Homo sapiens: one gene and its partners. The protein of the gene in region 2 purifies or fractionates together with the protein of the main gene of each other region. This does not show direct contact. Each region holds a gene or a part of one and is shown on either strand. Other genes may lie near its edges.

Evidence for each region. The genes of interacting proteins can lie anywhere in the genome.
Region 1: the proteins of DIDO1 (region 2) and SPTB purify together in Homo sapiens (affinity purification with mass spectrometry; one large-scale study listed by BioGRID and IntAct). This does not show direct contact.
Region 3: the proteins of DIDO1 (region 2) and PCDHA2 fractionate together in Homo sapiens (co-fractionation; one large-scale study listed by BioGRID). This does not show direct contact.
Region 4: the proteins of DIDO1 (region 2) and RBMXL1 purify together in Homo sapiens (affinity purification with mass spectrometry; one large-scale study listed by BioGRID and IntAct). This does not show direct contact.

What each region holds. Positions count from the first base shown.
Region 1 is NC_000014.9:64,745,770-64,748,362, forward strand, and holds the end of SPTB (spectrin beta chain, erythrocytic), read right to left. Parts: 3' UTR 514-2,593; downstream 1-513.
Region 2 is NC_000020.11:62,919,988-62,923,517, reverse strand, and holds part of DIDO1 (death-inducer obliterator 1), read left to right. Parts: intron 1-3,530. UniProt on the Homo sapiens protein: Putative transcription factor, weakly pro-apoptotic when overexpressed. Tumor suppressor. Required for early embryonic stem cell development.
Region 3 is NC_000005.10:140,797,835-140,801,364, forward strand, and holds part of PCDHA2 (protocadherin alpha-2 isoform 1 precursor), read left to right. Parts: intron 1-3,222; exon of another isoform or gene 3,223-3,363; coding exon of another isoform or gene 3,364-3,530. Other genes in the region: PCDHA3 (protocadherin alpha-3 isoform 1 precursor), read left to right, coding at 3,364-3,530. UniProt on the Homo sapiens protein: Potential calcium-dependent cell-adhesion protein. May be involved in the establishment and maintenance of specific neuronal connections in the brain.
Region 4 is NC_000001.11:88,986,117-88,989,646, forward strand, and holds part of RBMXL1 (RNA binding motif protein, X-linked-like-1), read right to left. Parts: intron 2,236-3,530; 5' UTR 2,235-2,235; coding exon of another isoform or gene 2,136-2,234; intron 1-2,135. Other genes in the region: KYAT3 (kynurenine--oxoglutarate transaminase 3), read right to left, coding at 2,136-2,234.

The DNA of each region.
Region 1 (2,593 bases), on a different chromosome or scaffold from region 2:
GCCCAGGAAGTTGTAGTTAACCCCTTCCCCAGGCAGTCCTTACACGGCCATCTAGGTATGCCTGGGAACCTTGCACCAGGTCGGTGGTTCTCACTGGCTGCCCATTGGAATTATCTGGGGAGCCTTCTGGAAACGCAGTGCTTACATTCCATCTCCCTAGACCAACAGAAACTGCCCTCTGGAGGTGAATCCCAGGCTTAGAGATTCTGATGATTCTGCGGTCCAGTGAGTGCTGAGATCTGTCCTGAGCTCTGTGGGGAGGGGCCTGGACTGATCACTGCTTGGAAATGATTTTGCCCTACAGTAGGCCTTCAAGTTGATCAAATGCATGAATGAGCAAGCTTTTCTTGGAGTTTGTGATGAAGCCCAGGAACCGGGTGCTTGCAGTCGTCCCATAAGGCTCCCAGGGACAAGCTAGAGAATCTGGCTGTCCCTCTGTCTCCATGGTGCCAGCCCTCTTAGGCTCAGTTCAAAGGGAGAGGAGGCTAGTTAAATAAGAAACTGAGAGAAACATGGAGCATTATTGATTTATTAGAAAAACTAGTAAATGGGTTTCCTCTGGTTGGTGGAAGCACGGTTGAGCAGGTGGAGGACAGGACCCAGCTGGCCCCAGGGCCAGCCCCAGATTGCATGGTCTGTGCCCAACAGGGTTGCATTCCTCTGCAGCCGCCGCCTCCTCATTTCCTCCCTGAGCTTGTTTGTCCAAGCCACCAAGCCATGTGGTCCCGCTGGCTTCATCCTCCTCTGGATTCCTGCCCCCCTCCCATGAAGGGAGGAAGAGGATTCAGGGTCAGCCTAGGGGACCCTGGCTCCCTCCGATAGGCAGGAAGGAGGAGGGATGCGGAGGAGAGGCTGAGCCTTCCACGGGCCTCCTGTTAGGGGTGTTGGTGGAGGCCAGGTTGGGGAGGGAAGCCTAAGGACCCTCCACACCTCCCACAGCCAGAGTCAGTTGAGGCTGGGACAAAGGGGAAGGAGAGAGGGAAGGAGGACCGCCTGACCTTGCCCAGAAGGAGCTTCCTCTAAACTGCCCTGGGAAGGAAGCCTGGTATGCTGGTGTGGACTGGAGCTGTGTCAACCTCGTTTGGGAATACTGTCAAAAGACTGTAGAGTAGAATAAGGAGAGAAAAAAAAAAAAAGACCTTGCTAGGGCACTGGGAGAGCTTAGCCCTGGTGTGGCACACACAGGGTCTCCCAAAGCTGGATGCCTGCATTTTCAGTCTAGTTGGTCGAATGTCTTGGAGCCTGGGTGACAGGAGGGATGTGTGGGGAGCTGGCAACAGAATGGTCACATGCAGCTGGCTGCCCTGGACCAGGCCAGGGGACCTGGGGTGGTGAGATGCTAGCTCTTCCACTAGAGCCCTTCCTTTCTCGGGTCTGTGGAGTTGCTTGCTGGAAATGCCTCACTTCAGGTGCTGATTTGGCACACGTGGAAGGGGGAGGGTGGGCCCTTGTCCCTAGGCTCCCTAAAGACTGGCCCAGGGAAACAGTTGAGGGAGATGTTTGCCACCATCTGCCCTTCAGCAAGGAACCTGCTCTCTGCCCCAGAGGAGGACATGCCTGCAAGTGCACCAAAGGCCTACTTTATTGCTAGGTGAGTGCAGTCACCTCACTGCCTTGGTTTCCCCAGATACAGAAAGAGGCTGGTGAGTGATACACACTAGGTTCCCTGTATAGGGTCATATGTACCAAAGCCAAATGAAGACCTTGCTCACCAGGGCGGGAACCTGGGGATGTCAGGCTCCATCGGATGACGTCTTCCTTCCTGTGGCTCCTGCCTGCTGCAGTTGGTGTCACCCTGACATATAGTGTCAGGGCCACAGGGTGGAACTGATTTCTGCCGGCACTGGTCAGCACTCAGGGTTCCTCAGGGGGCCTCATTCTGGATGCCTGCCCCTGTGGCTTCTACCTGAACCTCACCCACTTCATCTCCATGGAACTAAGGTCCTTCTCACGGGGAAGGTGATAGAAACTTGACTGCAGGCCCTGGGGACTTTCATGGTTTCCTTGGGGGAAAATGCCTGCTGCCCTCCGCCCTCCCCCCCACCCCCGACCCGCTTGACTGCTCTCTTGGACCTAACCCTAGTTTGATACTGGGCCAGAACTGTGTTGCTTTCGGAGTAGAGTGGTGGGGAAAATATGGAATGAGCTTTCTCTTCCTCCAGAAGTATGACCTGAGCAGCAAGGGGAAGGCCATTCCTGGGGACGTTGGTTGCAGAGCTTCTGGTGCTCAGGGCTGGAGGGTGGTAGATATTTGACCTCTGTACTCATGTGACCCCCTCCCCGCCAAGACCTGGGGCCAGGACGTGGAGAAGCTGATCAAGGGGTACCACACCTTCATGGCTCTGGCCCTGACATTTGTCCCAGTTGTGCAGGAGTAGCTGTCACATGGGTGGTGATACCAAGACATGGCTGCGTCTGCCACCCCGAGAAAACAGATGATCAACTTTACTGTCTGCCCAGCCATTACCCTCCAAAGTCCCAGCTGCAGACAGGATGCAATTGAGCATTTGGCTTTGGGATGCTTTACTGCAGGTGCGGGGGGTATCCATCTTATATCTGGGGGCCCACACTGTCCCGTAGGGGGCCTATGTCT
Region 2 (3,530 bases):
TCACGGCTGTGCATGTGATGATTCATCACCCTTAAAGAATTCCCGGCCGGGCATGGTGGGTCGTGCCTGGAATCCCAGCACTTTGGGAGGCCAAGATGGGTGGATCACTTGTCAGGAGTTCAAGACCAGCCTGGCCAATATGGTGAAACCCCATCTCTAACTAAAAATACAAAAATTAGCTGGGTGTGGTGGTACGTGCCTGTAATCCCAGCTACTTGGGAGGCCGAGGTGGGAGAATCGCTTGAACCTGGGAGGTCGAGGTTGCAGTGAGCCGAGACCGCACCACTGCACTCCAGCCTGGGCGACAGTGAGACTCTGTCTCAAAAAAAAAATAATAATAATTAGGCCAAGCATGCTGATGTGCTCCTGTAGTCCCAGCACTTTGGGAGGCTGAGGCCAGAGGCCAGAGGACCCCTTGAAGCCAGGAGTTCCAGGCTGTAGTGAGCCGTGGTTCTGCTACTGCTCTCCAGCCTGGGTGACAGAGCAAGACTCTGTCCACCCCCCACCCCCAACAAAAAGAATTTCACTATATAGATGTTTCTTGATTTTTCAAACTGGTCTGTTAGTTTGTGTTCAGTTTGTCACCTTTGTGAGAAAAAAAACACTCATAAGTTAGTGTGTACTTCCTACTTAATTTCTCCTGGGTCATCGTGAAGCACTCCCTGCCCTCCATGAGAACAGTATGTCACCCGCTCTCTTCCCTGTGCCAAGCCCATAAAGGGCTGTTGGCAAATATGTCGGACAAATAGACTCGCCTAAGAGGGCCTTTCTCTCCAAGCCCTCGCCAGCACAGGCTGTGTCACTTTCTTAGGTGGCACCTACCGTCTGTTGCACACTTGCCGCAGATGATTTGGCACAGGATGTCGCTTCAGAAAACCTTGTAGGAAGCTGTGAGGTCGTTACCGTCCCCATTTCACAGACAGGAAAGTGCAGGCCTTAGATGCACTGCCTGATACCCTGTGGCCCCCGCGTTCCTAGACAGATACACTGCCTGGTACACTGTACCCCCCCACCCCCGCTATCGTTTGCAGCTGGGGTTGAACCCTGCATTCATAGACAGGTTCCCCCTTGAGTGAGCCCCCCATCTGCTTAACTGAGGGCTTGTCCTGGTTATAAATGTCTGGGTGGGGGTGGGCACTGCTGGCTGCAGCTGTCAGGACTGGGAATGCTGAACCTGCACTGAGGGGAGTAGGCCCCAGAGATGCTCCCAAGACCCTGGAGACACAGGCCAGGTAGACACCTGTGTGTGTGTGTATATATATGTGTGTGTGTGTATATATATATATGTGTGTGTGTGTATATATATGTACATATATATATACACACACACACACATACATATAAAAGAGCCGGGCATTGTTTGTGTGTGTGTGTGTGTATATATGTATATATGTGTGTGTGTGTGTGTATATATATAGTGTGTATATATAGTGTGTATATAGTGTATATAGTGTGTGTATATATATATTGTGTGTATATATATCGTGTGGATATATATTGTGTGGATATATATATAGTGTATATATATTGTGGACATATGTATAGTGTGTATATATATTGTGGACATATATAGTGTATATATATTTTGGACATATATAGTGTATATATATTGTGGATATATATATAGTGTGTATATATATTGTGGATATATATATAGCGGGTATATGTAGTGGATATATATAGTATATATATATTGTGGATATACACACACACACAATAGCTGGGCATTGTAGTGCATGCTTGTAGTCCCAGTTACTCAGGAGGCTGAGGTAGAAGGATAACCTGAGCCCAGGGAGATTGAGGCTGCAGTGAGCCGTGATCAGTCGCTCCATTGCCCTCCAGCCTGGGCGACAGAGACCCTGTCTCCAAAAAAAAAAAAAAAAAATTGGCTGCAGCTCCAATTTGAGAAGCAAATTCTTGTGAGAGAAGGGTTTTTAAAGAAGAAACCCCATTCTCTCCACCTGAACTTAGGGTGGCCATCATCTCACTTGGCAATCCCTGCCTGGTCAGTAATCACATGAAACTGAATGAGAGTAGACAGGGTGTCTGGAAAAAGTGAATGCTAAAGCAGTACCTGTCACTGCCACTAGGATCCTGACTGAACCGGAATGGCCTCGGGGAGCAGCCTTTCAGGCTCCAGCAGTGGAAGGCGCTGCTGTGTCAGCGGTTACCAGACTGGCAGGACCCAGGACTGCTTTACACTCCTAAAAAGCAGGGAAGACCCCAAAGAGCTTTTGTTATATCTATTGATAGTCACCATGTTTGACATTTAAAAATGAGTCATTTAAATGCTGAAGTGCCTTCTATTTAAAATTGGAAACCAGCCGGGCACGGTGGCTCATGCCTGTAATCCTAGCACTTTGGGAGGCCAAGGTGGGCGGATCACCTGAGGTCAGGAGTTCAAGACCAGCCTGGCCAACATGGTGAAACCCTTTCTCTACTAAAGACACAAAAAAAATAACTCGGCATGGTGGCACACGCCTGTAATCCCAGCTACTCGGGAGGCTGAGGCAGGAGAATCCCTTGAACCCAGGAGGCGGAGGTTGCAGTGAGCTGAGATCGTGCCACTCCACTCCAGCCTAAGTGAGAGCGAGACTCCATCTCAAATAAATAAAGTAAAATTGTAAACCATTATATATTAACATAAGTAAACCATTTAGTGGAACCTGTTTTCAATGACGAAAACAATGAGAAAGATGGTTTTGTTTTCACAAATCTGTTTGGCTTAACTGACAGCTTCTGGATTCTCCTTCCGAATTCAAACTTAGTGTCTCCGTTCAGCTTCTGAAATGCTCTAGCATATACTCAGAGTGGCTGTGGAAACAGCATGGAATGTTGGTGTTGTGCAGACTGCTTTGATCCGGGGGCCTCCCAAAAGGACCCCTGGACCACGCTTTGAGAACCACTTCTCTAAGAGTTGTAAAATAGCTCTAAACACTTGGGGAAATTGATTACTTTTAGGAAGATAAGCTGTGTCTTTGAACAATTTTTAGTGGCTCAACCATGTGCTTGCCCCTTGGGGCAAGTGTGGAATCAATCTGATGCGCTGTCACCGGTAAAGCTGTTCCAGTACACACCTCTCCCTCAAAGTGCCCTACACAGCCCCTTGCTGAATCCTTTGCAGCAGTGAAAATCGGGGGTTGGGGGGAGGCAAGAGTAGGCTGTGCTTGGGGCCATGGAATTATGCAGGTCTCTAAGGGTGTGGACCGAGGAGAACATAAAGGAACAGTGATTTAAACCTGTAATAAACAGATGCCCTTGAGGGGAAGCAGCCCCCACAGTACCCTGCTGGGATGACCTCCCGCAGCGCACCCCACTCACATGGTACCCGGGGAGCTCACACTGCCACACTTGCGGCATGAGGTGGATTTCTTCATGGGGATAAGAACCTGTGCATTGTGGTCCTCACCAGGGCCCAAGTGGTAATCTTTTATTAAGAGCAACAGGAATCCTGGTATGTAGAATTGGGACCGTATCTTAAGTGTTTGAAACCATACTTTCTTTTTTACTGAGACAAGAGGAGTCCATCA
Region 3 (3,530 bases), on a different chromosome or scaffold from region 2:
AATAAGCTACATTTTTTTTTTGTTTGTTTGTTTTTGTTGAGACAGTCTTGCTCTGTCACCTAGGCTGGAGTGCAGTGGTGTGATCTCAGCTCACTATAACCTCTGCCACCCGGGTTCAAGTGATTGTCTTGCCTCAGCCTCCTTAGTAACTGGGATTACAGGCGCCCACCACCACGCCCGGCTATTTTCTTTTTTAAATTTTTTATTTTTAGTAGAGACGGGGTTGGTCTCAACTAAATGTTGGCCAGGCTGGTCTCAAACTCCTGGCCTCAAGTGATCCACCCTCCTAGGCCTCCCAAAGTGCTGGGATTACAGGAGTGAGCCACTGCACCTGGTCTTTTTATTTGTATTTGAAAGCAGCCTGAGTGGATATTTTAACACCAGAATTTCCAAAAGTATGTAGCACAGGTTGTTACAACAAAATGACAGCACTTAGGAATAACTGCTAATCTTAAGTATGTTTTTTATAAGTAAAATAACCCATTATTTGGTATAAAGATTTCACACTGATAACATTTTTGAGTTATCAGGCAAAAATAGAGAGTATTGAGAAAAGAGACCCTCTCAATTTTGTTTAATTTGAAAATATTAACATTTAAAAATCACACTGGGGTTTTTCAGGTGGTGGGACTTTTTCTTCATTTAAGTGGAGACTACCCAGTCTTTATGTTAATGGTTGATAAATCATCCTTTCAGTATCATTATCATTAGGCCAATGTGTGCAGGCCTCCCACTGCAGAGATTGACTACTTTTTTCTGGCATCTAATTCTATGCGTGGGAATACATTTTCCATTAATGTGAGCTCACTCAATTTTACCTGGAAGCATCCATATTCCTAATGAAATTGGAATTTTTCCAAAAGATGAGGCCTGGTCTTGGATGACTACATTTTCACTTGAAACATTTATTTTGGGTAATTATAACACTGAACTCGACAAGTAAATGTTACACTTGGAAAGAACTTTTTTAGCTTTTCCAACCAAAGGCAGATGTATTGCAATAAAATAACTGTCTTAAACGGTCCTCTACTATTTAGTTCTTAGTTATTTGCTGTTTATTCTAAATATATGTGCATATTGATAAATCATAGAAATAACTTCCACTAGTGATCTTACCTTTAGCCATTTCATAGTTAGGTCAGAATATCCATTTCCAAGTAATACTTGACCACTATGTTTCTACCATAGGTAAATGATAAGCTTCTAAAATTATATTCACATATATCCAAATCTCCAGGAGTCACAATCTGTTGCTCTATAAGTTTTTTCAAAACATTCTTATTTACATTTTTTCTTGGTTGTCTAAGTGACATCTAGGTGGTAGTAGAAATTATTCACTGATACTTTATCTACAAAATGGCTCAATCTTCTAAACTCATAGTTCCTTTAATATTACCTTTATCTCTTAATAATCAGTATGGAGTCTACTCTGCTATAAATTCTCATGTGACATTCCATTTTGCAATTAGTATAACTCTTAAAGGTACTGAAAAGTGCAGTATTACAATAAGTTGTCAAAGGCATCTCATTACTATGAAGTCCATGAAGTTTAAAAATTTTAAATTTATCTCTTATTTTCAAACTAGCTACCATCTTTAAAAATTCAGCAAAGTGGTAACTGGAATATTAATAGCTATAATTATTTCTTAGGTCCATGCTTTTCAGAAATAATGCTTAAATGTTTACTTACTTCTTCATAATATAGCACAATATAATCATTTAGAAATTATGTAAGTTTGATATTAACAAATATCATTAACTTACATTTTTATTTATCTTGCTTGAAAAAGTTAATTCAAAATATTAATTTATTTATTCATGAAAACAACAATTGATAATTTATCCTATTCTAAATATGAATGATAAAATCTGAGTAAGTTGCAGTCCTGGCTTCCATTTCATGAATACACAGGAAACAAAAGCTGAAATGAAAACTTTTCCCCTAAATATTTAAATCACATGTTTGATTTCATTTTTAAATGGTCTGGGTATAAGCAAAAATTTGTACATTATTTTATTTCTCTAAATTTGACCTCTTTCCATAAATTTTCTTTGCCCCACTTCCAAATGCGGCGAGAATTCATGCTTCTCATTGAATTCACAGATATCTTTAGAATGTTTTATTGCTTAGTGTTAAATATGTTGAGTAAATACTGGCTTATGTTCCTAGGTTACTTTTCTCCCTTCACTGTTTAGTTAAATAATCAATTCTTTCAAGTAACAACTTTTAAAAAAACTGGAATCTAGAAATTCATCAGGAGTGGAGATCATCAAAAACGTAATTACTTTATATTGTTAACATTTTAGTATATACAGGTAAATTCAAATACATAAAGAGTGTGGAAAAATTAAACCTAATATATTCTTAATTGATGTGATGTGAGTGTAACAAATATACAAATCACATTCCCACAATAGGAAACAAATTTCCTGTTTGAATTTCTCTGTAAAGGACCGACTTCTGAAATCTTTATGTAAGTTACAGTCAAGACAGTTGATGAGGCTATAGTTCTTGAAAAAGGGGCATGGGAGGGAATTACAGACATTCTACAAATTTAAAAAACCATAAATGTACATATTTTAAGAAATTAACAGTTGCTGTAATAACATAAAAGTAGATATATGTATGTTTTAATATATACAGCACACACACACTTTTAAATACTTCAACATCTCAATGTTTTGATGATCATAAATCTGAAAGGATCTGATTTTTCTATAAAATGTAACTTGGGTGGTAAAGAGGTTAATGGTAAGTTGTCTTGAATCAGATTGAAATCCCATCGTACCAAGAGATAATATCGTTTTACTTAACCTCTATGTGTTTATAAAAAGCGAATAATATTAAAACTTATTTCAGAGGATTGTGATAATTTAACGGGATAATTCCATTAAGACAAATAGAAAAGTGGCTGTCACATGGGAAATATTTCCAATAGATGTCCACTGTTAAAACAGGAATCACAATATTTTAGTGTATGTCATGAATTAGCACAATTGATAGTGAATTAGTATAAAAGTTCTAAGGAAATATTTAGATAAAATATAAGGACTTTGAGGAGTGACCGAAGGATATTACAATTGAAACTAGAAATTTTGGGAAAGTTCAAACGACATACAAGGAAAAGAAGATACGTTTACATATTTAATACTTACACGTTTAGCCACATGATGTCGCTGTCCACCACAAGGTCTTTCTCCACAAAAGAAATAACAGCGTGCATTACGTATTCAGATACTGCTTTGCTTCATCCTCTCTAAAATTTAACACCGAGGAGTTTAAGAAATGAAGATAAGGAACTCGAATTATTTTTAAACTTTGGATCAATGTAAAGGCAATCTAATATTTGGAAAATACTTGCAATGTTGTTCTCCTGGCGAGAAGATCCTGGAGCCCAGTGCCTGCTGCTTTCTCTTCTGCTCCTCGCAGCCTCGGAGGTGGGGAGCGGCCAGCTCCACTACTCCGTCTCTGAGGAGGCCAAGCATGGCACCTTCGTGGGCCGCATCGCGCAGGACCTGGGGCTGGAGCT
Region 4 (3,530 bases), on a different chromosome or scaffold from region 2:
GCTGCAGTGAGCCGAGATTGCGCCATTGCACTCCAGCCTGGGCGGCAAGAGTGAGAGACTGTATGAAAAAAAAAAAAGAGAGAGAGAGAGAGACAGAGAGAGTTGATTTCCTTAAGGAAGGACAGACCTAAGGAAAAGGTTTTGTCCAGTGTTGCTTTTGCGCTTCTCTGGTGGACATTTAAATTTTAGACTCTCTTAAAAAAAAAAAAATTAATAGACTATTTTAGGGCCAGGCGCGGTGGCTCACGCCTGTAATCCCAGCACTTTGGGAGGCCGAGGCAGGTGGATCACAAGGTCAGGAGATTGAGACCATCCTGGACTACAGGTGTGTGCCCAGCTAATGTTTTGTATGTTTAATAGAGATGAGGTTTTGCCATGTTGCCCAGGCTGGTCTTGAACTCCTGGTCTCAAGCGATCCACTGGCCTCAGCCTCCCAAAGTGCTGGGATTGCAGGTGTTAGCCACTGCGCCCCGCCTACATTTTTCCTTTAGCATTCAAAACATTCTTTAAAATTAGAGAATATGTAAAATGTTTTTGTAAAAAAGCAAGTAATACAGGAAAATACAGCCTATCCTTCATTCTATTCCCTTCCCGGCAGATTTTCATGACATTAAGGATGATGTGGATGAAACGAATATTCTAAGTAAGTTCACAGTAACTTATCTGGCTGGTTCTGACAAGTCTTTCTTGATTTAAACTTATCACTATTGCTTTTGTAACACTGGCCAGTGTTTTTCATTCGTCCAGCAATAGGAAGAATATTTATCTTTATCCCTGTGCGACTATTTTAAATGCAAAGCCTCTGATGAACTGTAGACACTTTTCCAATGTAGTTAAAATGATACAAACACTTTGGCAGTTACTTAATTAAACATAAAGCTACCACACAACCCAACCATTCCACTGCTAGGTATGGAGAGGGGTTAGTGCTATCCCAAATAGTCCACAAGTTTGAATAATGCATTGTCAGTGGTTTTTGCCTGGGACATACATCAGAATCAGCTGGAAAGATTTTTCAAAATACATTCCAGATATGTAGAATTAGAATGCATAATGGTGAGCCCTGGCATACGTAGTCTAATAAAAGTTCCACAAATGAGGATTGTGCACACAAATGCCCTTTTAGTGCCATGGTTTCATATGTTCACCTTGGGGAAGCACAACCACTTCCCTGGCTTCAACCGACTTCTATGTTGGGAGAGGGCCTGAAAAAGGTGGTCACGGTGGCATAAAGAGGAGAGAATTCAAGACAGTTATGAGGTAGAATTCATAAGATTTACATATAGAAGACACTGATGATGGTTTTTATGAAAATTTTAAACCACTGAGAAAATTTTAAACCAGTTGAGAGATTAGAATTAGGTTGAATACAAAATTGTCAATATTCAACCAGTTATGACAAAAATGGTACTTCATATGCCAAAAATGGAATTTTCATACAAAAATAGCAATTTCATATACTTTAACCTAATATAAAACACTCATATGCACACTACCCAGATTCAGTAATTCTCAAGATTTTGCCTCTTTTTTTCTGTAATTGCTGAGTAACTTTAGAATAAATCTTAGACCTTAGGTCATTACATCCCTACATACTTGGCATATTATCTAAAAAATATTGCTACTTATATAACTGCAATTTCATTACCACACCTCACCAACAATAATTTCTTGTTAACATCTAATACCCAGTCCACATTCGTATCTCTCTGATTGTCTTTAAAAAATGTCTTTCTGCATTTTGGTTGACTGAATCAAGTTCCTAAAGCAGATGTACGTATTGTATTTGGTGGTTATGGGTTTTAAACCTTTTTCGATCCCTGAGCAGTCCTCCTGAAATATCCTCTTCTACTTTTTTCCCATGCCACTGGACCTATATTCATAACTTGAAGGGTTTTGTGAAGACAAAATGAGGTAATGAATATATAATGACCAGCACATGGCCTGATCCACAGACAGGCAAGCAGTTGCTCAGTGAATGTCAATTCTAGTCAATGACAAGAGACACCTTCAGCATATGTAATAGAAATGTTCATTTCAATAAAGTATTTGTAAAAAAGCATCTGAAAAATTACATATTTTTTGGACAGTGCAGAATATGTACAATAATTTATCTGTAAGTAAGCAATACCTACAGCAGAAGTAGAGAATCCGAGGATTTTGGAAGAAGAAATTGTCTTCAGGAATTTTGCTCTACCGCTAAGAGAGCAGAGGCTCCTCTGGGCCAAAAACATGCTATTAAATAAAAGAAAAATTGAGAAGAGGAATAAATATATGATGGGTACATCACTATCAGACACTTACAGCTAGCTGATGTATCATAAGCTTACGTAAAATCCAAGTAAACATTTTTGATAAGTGAGTTTGCTTTCTTTCAAGTTTTCTTTCTATGATATAATCTCTCATCACTGGAGGCATTCTAATAAATGTATTCTTCCTACACAAATTTATATTCACATCATTTTAAACTAGAGAGCTTTAAGAATATTCTTAATTAAAAAAATAAGGCTTTAATTTAGTCAAGAGCATTAAATTTCAGAAAGTGAAAGTTCCATTTCTAGCAGCTATAAAATCCAGAGTATTTCAATCTAGGAACTACTCAAATTTCAGAATCCTCTGGATAACAGTCACTAGTAAAAGCATAGTTTGTAACAGTAAATTAAAGTTGTTAGAAACAGTTATTTAAAAAGTTGTTTGAAAAGACGAATGATAGTAGGTCCTTGATAAATATAAAGAATATATGAGTGAATCTTAGGTTATTCTGAAGGTACTTCCTCCAACAATTCCCACAAGCCATTTTAGTGGATTCCAGTGGCATGATAGGCATGCATTCTGAATTGCTTCTCTACCTGTAAGTATAAAATTGATATCCGTCATGGGTAAATGGAGGAAGATCAAGGCAATGAAACTATTACAATACTGCCACTTAGAAGTGGAAAGAAAACCCAGCTTTCTAAAAACATTCAGGCAAATAGATATTTCTCATAAGGTTTTACTCTGAGAATGTTGTTCTCTTAAGTCTACTGTATAAGGCTGCTGTATCAGTGGATGGCATGTCGTCTAACAGTTATCAAACCTTAGAGAAAAAGAGACCTAATCTATGGAAACTAAATAGAGCTTCTATATAAAACGCTAACAAATCAAACCCAGTAGTATACAAGAAGGATAATACATCATGACCAAGGGGGGTTGGGTTTATATAAGAAACCTATTAATGTGATTCACCACATTAAGAGATTAAAGCAGAATTCAATCTTAAAAAAAGTTTCTATCTGTAGTCAAGTTATGGACTCTTGCTGGGCCTCAGTTTCTCCATTTTTCACAATAGGTGAATAAATTAATAAGGTTTGAGTTAAAGCAAGCAAGTAGCGGGAACCCTCTAACGACATAAAGATACAATGGAATTTGCTGATTATGGCGCAGCTGTCCCAAAAGACACAGCTGAAACTTTGGAAAATGGAAGAGAAAGGAAGACCTGGGTCAGTTGCCAGGAATTACATTGCATGATGGAGGTAATGTGCTAATAATAA